Regions from separate parts of the Homo sapiens genome. Here region 1 is linked to region 2. Evidence: fine-mapped expression QTL. Tissue or cell type: whole blood. Region 2 holds a variant in brackets; the other region holds the start of a gene. All regions are shown on one strand. Distances are from middle to middle.

What was found. PIP is the estimated chance that this variant, and not a neighbour inherited with it, causes the effect.
Region 1: it holds the start of SEL1L3, and the variant in region 2 is fine-mapped to the expression of SEL1L3 in whole blood (INTERVAL, PIP 0.97).

Annotation. Positions count from the first base shown.
Region 1 is chr4:25,861,368-25,865,495 of GRCh38, forward strand. It overlaps SEL1L3 (SEL1L family member 3), which reads right to left and starts at 1,621. Exons shown (of 24, transcript NM_015187.5): 1 at 1,308-1,621. The coding sequence starts at 1,469. LOC102723733 (a long non-coding RNA gene) reads left to right here. Exons shown (of 2, transcript XR_427503.5): 1 at 1-786. It overlaps LOC124900688 (a long non-coding RNA gene), which reads right to left. Exons shown (of 3, transcript XR_007058092.1): 3 at 3,841-4,039. RefSeq lists silencers at 620-914, 1,185-1,644, 1,695-1,854.
Region 2 is chr4:25,777,601-25,781,859 of GRCh38, forward strand. SEL1L3 (SEL1L family member 3) reads right to left here. Exons shown (of 24, transcript NM_015187.5): 16 at 1,476-1,603. Among named protein-coding and RNA genes, the nearest start is that of SEL1L3, 83 kb to the right of the region's middle. The variant G/A (reference allele first, on the strand shown) is at 1,631.

The DNA of each region.
Region 1 (4,128 bases), 84 kb after region 2:
ATATGAGTAAAAGCACGGATTGCTCAACAGGTAGATGCACAGGCAGAATTATAATTTGCATTTTTACACCTTCTTGCTTCAAGAAATGAAACATTCAAGAAGTAAAAAACGTTAAAAGAAACGGGCTGAGTGGCAAATTTCTTCAGAATCAAATTCTAATTTCTGCCAGTATCTCCTAAGCAGTTTTTAGCTTCCAAAAAGAAAGACTCCAAATAATGACAATGCCACATAAGTGAAATGAATTCTGGACAATGACACTGCTCTTTTTTTTTTTTTTTTTGGCATTCTGTGAATTTCCTATTACATCAGTTTCATGATTCAGCATTTTCCATTTCATTTATTTACAGTAATATATGGCGAGATAACCCAAGGTTTCTGCAGGATTGTGGAACATAAGTTACTCTGGGCAGGAAGGGTGTCGCCTTCTGTAAATTTACTATTGTTTAGGAGAACTCAAAACAGAAGCAAGCAAGCCCTCAAAGGAACTGAGAAAATTTCTCCCCACTTTGTTCTGAGGGGTCTCAGCTACTCTGGTATTTAAAATAAATGGGTTTTGAAAAATAGGTTACTGCCCTTTAGTTGATGACTAAAACAGAAGCCAAGAAGTGTGCAAATTGCAAACTGACATGCATGAGCCAAACATATTCTCTGAAATGACAATGTTCAAGACGCAGCTAAAGTCACCACTCTGGCGGTAAGCGTGTTACAGAGAACTAGATTTCTTTCCGGCATCCGCAACTTGGCTGGAGTGACCAAGGAGGAGTTGAAGAGCGCTGGAGATGCGAGGTGCGTTGGCAGAAAACTGTCCGGGCCGGGAGGACCCGGTGGAAACTAAAAGGAGGGTCGACGCGGGTGGCGGGCGCCGAGAGTAAGAGGCGAAGTTGGGCACGGGAAGGAAAGGAGCTGCGAGAAGATTGAGAGGGAAGCCCAGGAGGGGTGGGGGGTTGGGGGGTGCTGGAGACTGCGCGCGGCGGGGCGGGGAGCGAACTCCGGGCGGCGAGGCTCCCGGGTGGAGTCGAGGACAAGAAGGGGTCTCGAGGGTAACCCGACCCGGGTCTAGAGAGAGTCCAGGAGGGAAAGGAATGAGCACGAGCGAGAGAGCAGCTTGGCAAGTCCGGTCCAAGCGCCCCTCTCCACGCCCGGGGTACCTATCCCAGGTGCCGGGAACGCCCGGGGCGCAGCGACGAGGAAGAGAGAAAACTAGCAGCGGCGTCCCCGCCCCGCGTGGCGGGTGTCCCCGGCCGCCCCCACCCGCGTCCCCGGGGCCCCGCGCGGAGGGGAAGACCCGGGCAGGGTCCGGCGCTCACCAGGTAGCAGAGCAGGAGCAGCGCGCAGGCAGAGCGGCCGCCGAGGCCCTGGGGGACGCCGCCACTCGGGACCATGGCTGCGGCCCGGGGGCCGACCGCGAGCGGCGGGGGTTGCTGCTGCTGCTGCCGCGGCCACCCGAGCCCCGCGCCGCGCCGCTGCATGGCGAGGCCGCCCGGATCCGGGCCGGAACAGGTCACCTGGTGCAGGGACCGGCCCCCGCCCGAGGCGCCACCTTCCCGCCCGCCCCCGGCCGGGCCGGCCGCCGCGCGCGGGGCCACCTGCCGCCACCTCCGGACCCGCCGCCGCCGCCACTGCCGCTCCCGCCGTCGCCGCCCCCGCAGCCCCAGCCGAGCGCCGGCTCCTCCCCGCCTCCCCGTCCCCGTCCCCTCCCTCCCCTCTGCCTCCCTGCCCAGCCCTCCTCCCGGCCGCTCCCTCTGGCCCCCGGGCTTCCACCCCTCGGAGCAGCGGGCGCCCACGCAGGTGGGCACCGACCCGGGTCCCGCCCCTTGGCCGCCGCCACCCCCCGCCCGGGTCGCTGGGCCCCGGCGCACCCCCCTTTCCCTTTCTCTCTGCTCCTCCCCCGCCCCCCTTCCGCGCTCCTGCTCTCTGCGATCCCCCTCCTCTCCCTCCGGCTCCCTCTTCCTTCTCCCCTCGCGCTCCCAAACCCCCTCTCTTTTTCACTTTCTCCTTTTCCTCCCTTTCCTCTTTCTCCCTTCCCATCCTCTTCCTCGCTTCCGCATTCTTCCTCTCCCACCCACCCCTTTTGCGGGTCGCACAGACCAGTTCCCGCCCGTGCAATGGGTTTTTGTCTGGTTGCTTTTTTGGCCGGGGCGCCATTCCCGCAGGGCGCAGGGCGAGTGTGCCCCCTGGAGTTGTGCCGCGCAGCTGCCCGGCTCCCAGGCCTTCAGGATGGATTTTGACCCCTGCCAACCTCCACCTGTCCACCTGCGGGGTTGGGACTGCCTCCTTGCTGGCATGTTTGCAGCCGGGCTGCGCCCCACCCTGCCGGCTGGTTCGCGGCACGTTCTGGATGTTTCCCGAGGGTTTTGTGTGGTGCCGCCGCCACCGCCACCACTGCGCTCTTTGTTTTAATTGTCCAGAGTATTGGCACCCAGGACGGGTTTGTATTTGATTTGCATCCCTGTGCTCCGGCTTCCACTTTGGACTGAGAAAAAAATGAATTAATTAGGTCAATACAGTAATACTGGAGCCCCAAATGAAAGGGGTGAGGCCCTGGAAGTGCGCAAACAGCTTTTTAAAAAACCAGGACACATCCTCGGCCTTGGGGACGCAGGTTGAGACTGGCTGCTCTCCGACCCGGGTTCTGCGGCCTGGCGGGGAGGGGCCTCCGGCCGGCGGGACCACCAGCTCGCCGCCGGCCTTGGCTTTCAGGGAAGCGCTTGGCTGTGTCTAGCGGCTCCGACAACTATCTGGGCCCGCAGCTGCTGCTCTGAAACAGTTAATCCACCTTCCAAAGTTCGCAGAAGCTTCCCTTTAGCACTGGTAGATTTGTGCGGATTGGAACTAATAATAGCCTGGGAGCCTGAGAGGCCACAGCCCTTTCCCTGTGCCACGAGCATAGGTCAAGTCACAACAGACGTCGGGGAGAGGCTGGTGGTGAGACGGGGTGCCCGGGATGGTTTGACGGGCGTGGACGCGCCCTCAGCTGCTTCAGTACAGGCCTGGCCACACCAGGCATGGTGGCTCCTCAGCTGTCGTCCACTTTTTTTTAGGTCACCTAAGAGCTGTGGCCTTGTGTGAGTTCCCTGGCCTTATTCCACCGGTTCTCAAACTTCAGAATTACCTGGAGGGATTGTTAAAACACAGATTCCTGGACTTCAGCCCTAGAATTTCTGACTCAGTTGGTCCTGGGAGGGACTTGAGAATGTACCTTTCTAACAAGCTCCTGGGTGATGTTAACGCGCTGGTTCAAACAGCCCTCCTCCATTTCCAGAACTATTGGCTTTTAGGGAACTGGGCTCCTGCTCCTCCCAGCCAGCTGCCACCACATTAAAGCATTTTGGGGGTTTTGACAGATGCTCCCACTATCTCTGTTCCACTTCTGCAGAAACAAAGCACTTAACATTCTTCTGTGTGACGTGGAAAACATTTATTCTATCGAGTGTCCAAGGGAACAAAAGATTTGGTGGCTTTGTCCCAGATCCTGTCTATATCTTTTCCATCAGGTCAAAATACAGACTATGCTTTTAATGTATATGGAAGGAAAATTGTCGGCCAGTTCAGGGGGAAGGGGCTTCAACAGGCATTGCAGCATTTCTAGGGTTGCCACCTGTCTTCCTGGGCCACGCTCCGGAGTTTCTCTCCTCCCACATTGTACACAGATTCTGTTGGTCTTCGGGGAGCTAAATGGTTCCTCGGGGTTGTTTGTAATCAGGATTCATGGAATTGGGAGTTTTCAAGGCCTTGTGAGCTTTGAGGATTTGGGTTTACCTAAGTGTAGGTAAGCAGAGTGCCCCACTGGAGGCTGGACTGTTTCTAACTTGCCATATCCAACTGCTCACTTCTCCCCTACTCACTCATCTCCTATTGTGTTCCTACTGTGGACTGGGCACCACCTGAGGCCCCAGGATTCCAGAGGTAGGCAGGAAGGCTCTGTTTCTGCAAGGAGCACCAGGCATGCAGAAAACCGGCCAGAGTTTGGTCTTCTAAGAGGGATGTGTGAGTTGCTCTCTCATCCTGAGCTAGAGGTGGTGGGATTAACTGCTTCATCCTGTGTTGGAGAGGGGGAGAGAAAAAGTCAAGATTTCTTTTCACGGGGGAGTGGGACGTTTTGATCCAGAAGACAGAATCAGCTCTTAC
Region 2 (4,259 bases):
ACTTTGACAAATTTCAAAGGATTGGAATCATTCAGAATATATTCTCTGATCACAGTGAAATTAAGCTAGAAATCATTAACAAGAGGATAACAGAAAATCCACAAAACATGAATATTCATGTCAAATATACTAAATAACAATGATAAAAAACTTCAAGTCAGTCTAAGTCAAGTTTATCACCAAGGTCAGGTCAGGTTGAATTTGAACCCAAATGTGTTATGAAGAACAATCTTTTGGAGAGCCAGGGTATCAGTGTGAGGGTGGCCTAAAACAGAGGTCGACAAACTTTTTCTGTAAAGAGCAGGATAGTAAATATCTTAAGCTTTGTGGGCCACATATAGTCTCTGTTGCATATTCTTCTTTATTTGTTTTATAACTCCTCAAGAATGTAAAAAGCATTCTTAGCTCTTGGAGCCATACAAAACAGGTACCAAGCTACATTTCATCTATGGGTCATGGTTTGACAACTCCTGTAAAACATTTTCAGATCTGCAAGACCTCAAAAATGTGCCTCCCATTCACCATACCTCAGGAACCTACTATTGGATGTGCTCCACCAAAATTTAAGTGCAGACCAAGAAAGAGAAAGAAAGGGGTCTGACAAAGAAGAGAACCAAAAAAGACACAGATGGAGGGAAAGTAAATACCCATAATGATGACAGTTAATCTCAGCATGACAGCATTGTCCTGAACAAAGACTCCAGGATGGATGTCACCAAGAAGGTTAAATTAATATAATATTTAGATAGGTCTGGACATACCAAGAGGAAATTCAGGCACCTGGAGGAGAATTTGGAGATCAAATACATAGAAAATGATAAGTATACAGAAAGCTTAGCAAATAAACAATAAAAAATAAGTAGCAATCCATAGAAAAGAAAAAGTTGTGCAAGAAAGGAAAAGTAATCAGAGTATACTACATGGTTCAGTTAGAAATAGCATTTACATGGTCATAATAATGTAAACCCTGATACTAATGTAACCAAAATGATATACTTATTGGGAAGATGAAAGATGGCAGGAAGTATGAGTGAGCTGAGTAGTGGGAGGTGGCAGAGTCAAAGAAAACTACATCTTTATCCTTCGCAGTGGGACATCATTAGACAATGCCTCGGATGAAAATACCAAGAAATAGTGGTATAAGCATGTTATTTAGAAATAGAGACAAATAAAAAATAAATAAAATAAAATAAATCTTTCAAAAAAGATTGAAAGTGATTCATTCTAGGGAGCAGAAAATAGAGTCTAGGGGTGGGATGAAGTGAGGTAGGCAAGGATTTCTTGTTTAGCCTTTGTCAAATTATTTTTAAATTTTTAATTAAAAGTTTTAATTTTGTCTTGTCAAATTACATGACTTTTAAAACTACATGCATGTACAACTGGTAAAAATAAAGAACTCAACTTAAAAAATGCTCAGGCACAGAGAATATAGGATATGGCTTTCCCTTCAAATGCAACGTTTGACAGAGTCTTACACAACAGCTTTCTCAGGATCTCTAGGGAATGTCTCCAGGTTGCCTGTGATATAGTAGAGAGAACACCACAAGGTCCCTTCCATGTGTCCACCTTGCGCAGCCTTATGGAAATATTCACCAGCTAAAGTCTGTAACAAGAGATGAACAAACATCGA[G/A]TCATCCTAGCTGGGCTGGTTTCGCCAGAGACAAGGTGATGAGATGCTTTAAGCCTGATATGATTACAGGCTTATAACTTCTGATAGCTTTAAAACCAGGGCAAGCAACAATTCCAGGAAGACAGCCAATCACAGAAGTCAGCCTCTGAGATGTATGACCTTGCCTCATCTATTCTGTTGATTAAGTTTACCCAATAAATAAGACAACATGTAATTATGAATACCATTGCCATCTCATTTGATCCTCACATAACCCCCTGAAGGCTAGATAGAAGACTATATCAGAAGTCAAACCAGGTGAAAATCCAGGCATTTGCTTTCCTAACCCTGCTTAATACCTTTCTTCAAACTCATGTGCGAAAACTGCATTTCCAGTAGGAAGGTGAGAATTAGAATGTGACAATAAGAAATCTTCACTCACAGATGTCTTGGGAGGGTTAGCACACATTTGCTATGCATAAAAATATACTGCCTCTTATGTCATCAGAGACAGGTAGAGGGAAAAAATAAGACAAACATGTAGATGGGTATATTTCCACAGATTACTCTTATTTTTCTGAGGCAGTTGGCTATTGTTTTTTGAAAGCATGGGTGTTGAAGTTAGGCAGGCTTGGTTCAAATCCCAACTCTGCTCCTTACTAGCTGTGTGGACTTGGGCATGTTGGTTAATCTCTCCAAACCTAATTTCCTTCCACTAAAAAATGTGCCTTCAGATAGCACCTAGAGTGAAGGGTTGTTGTAAGGATTAAATGAGATAACACATTCTCAAGGTTTAGCACAGTGCTTCAAAAAGAATAATCTTCCAATTCTTCCCCTCCTACCCCCAAATCTGCTGCTGCCACAATCTTGTTCCTCCCAATAAATGCCACTTCCATTCTTCCAACGCAACAAATGCCAAACACCTTGGAGTCACCCCTGACTCTTCTCCACCTCTCACACCCCACATTCAACCCCTCAGCAAATCCTGCTGCCTCGACCTTCCAAATACATGTAGAACCCAGTTTCAGCCCCTCCACTGACACTGCCCTGGTCTCGCCCACTGCCCTCTCTCACTTGGATCCAATGCATGAACCCCCTGCTCCTGTCCATGTCTCCGGTAGGCAGGATCCAGGAGGAACCTTTTAAAATACAGCCCATCGTTGCCCCATTGAACATTGCCCAGTGGTTTCCCATTTCATTCAGAGCAGAAACTGAGTCTCAGACTGGTCGGCTTCCTCCCTGGTCCTATCTCCCACCCTCTCCATCTCTTCTGCTTTCCACTCCACTCCCCTGGCCTCCCTGCTGCTCCTCTAGCACACCAAGCCTGCTTCCTTCTCAGGGCCTTTGCACTGCCTGCTCCTTCCTTCTGGAATGTTCTCCTAGATATCTGTAAGATTCCTTTAGGAGTCTATACAATATCACCTTATGAGAGAGGCCTTCCTTGGTTCCCTGGTTTCCCTTATAAAATAGCATTTCCCAATCTCCACCCCCTCATCCTACATATATATAAAATATATAAATAATATATATAAATAAAAAATTATATATAAACTATATATAAATAAAAAATAAAATACACATAAATAAAATATATATAAATAATATATATATATTTTATATATATATATATTTTTGAGATGGAGTCTTGCTCTGTCGCTCAGGCTGGAGTACAGTGGCACAATCTTAGCTCACTACAACCTCTGCCTCCGGGGTTCCAGTGATTCTCCTGCCTCAGCCTCTCGAGTGCCTGAGATTACAAGCATGCACCACCACACCTGGATAATTTCTGTATTTTTAGTGATGAGGGTTTGTATTTTTAGAGACGGAGTTTTAAAATGTTGGCCAGGCTGGTCTTGAACTCCTGAGCTCAAGTGATCTGCCTGCCTCAGCCTCCCAAAGTGATGGGATTACAGGTGTGAACCACCACTCTCAGCCCTCCTGAACTTGTTTTAGTTCTCTGCATAGCACTGATCTTCACCTCCCCTCCTATTATATATTTATTTGTTTATTGTCTTTTCCATCTGGTGGAATGAAAGCTTCATAAGATCAGGGACTGTTTTGCCTGCTACTATGTCCTCAGTGTTCAGAAGGGTGCCTGGCACTGGGTGGGTATTCACCACATTTTGTTAAATGTAGCGGAGCTCAGGACCAGGCACAGTGGCTCACACCTGTAATCCCAGAACTTTGGGTGGTGGAGGTGGGCGGATCACTTGAGGCCAGGAGTTCAAGACCAGCCTGGACAACATGGCAAAACCTCATCTCTACTAAAAATACAAAAATTAACCAGGCGTGGTGGTGCACGCCTGTAATCCCAGTTACTCCAGAGGCTGAGGCATGAGAATCGTTTTTATTTTTAACGATTTTTATTATCAACATTATTATTAATAGAGTGGGCTTCCACTGTGCACTAGGCCAGGTCCTCACTCCACTAAGTGTGTGACCCTACGTTACTTAACTTCGCAGAACCTCAGTCACTTGTCTGAAAAATGGACATAACCAGAGTATTAATAGCTATTTCAGAGGAGAATTAGGATTACATAAGAGGGCACATGGTAGGGTGTTTTGCATGGTGCTTGGCACAGAGGAAATGCTTAATCAACACTAAAGATTGCCATTGTGTTTTCATTATTATTAAAACTGGTTTCACACC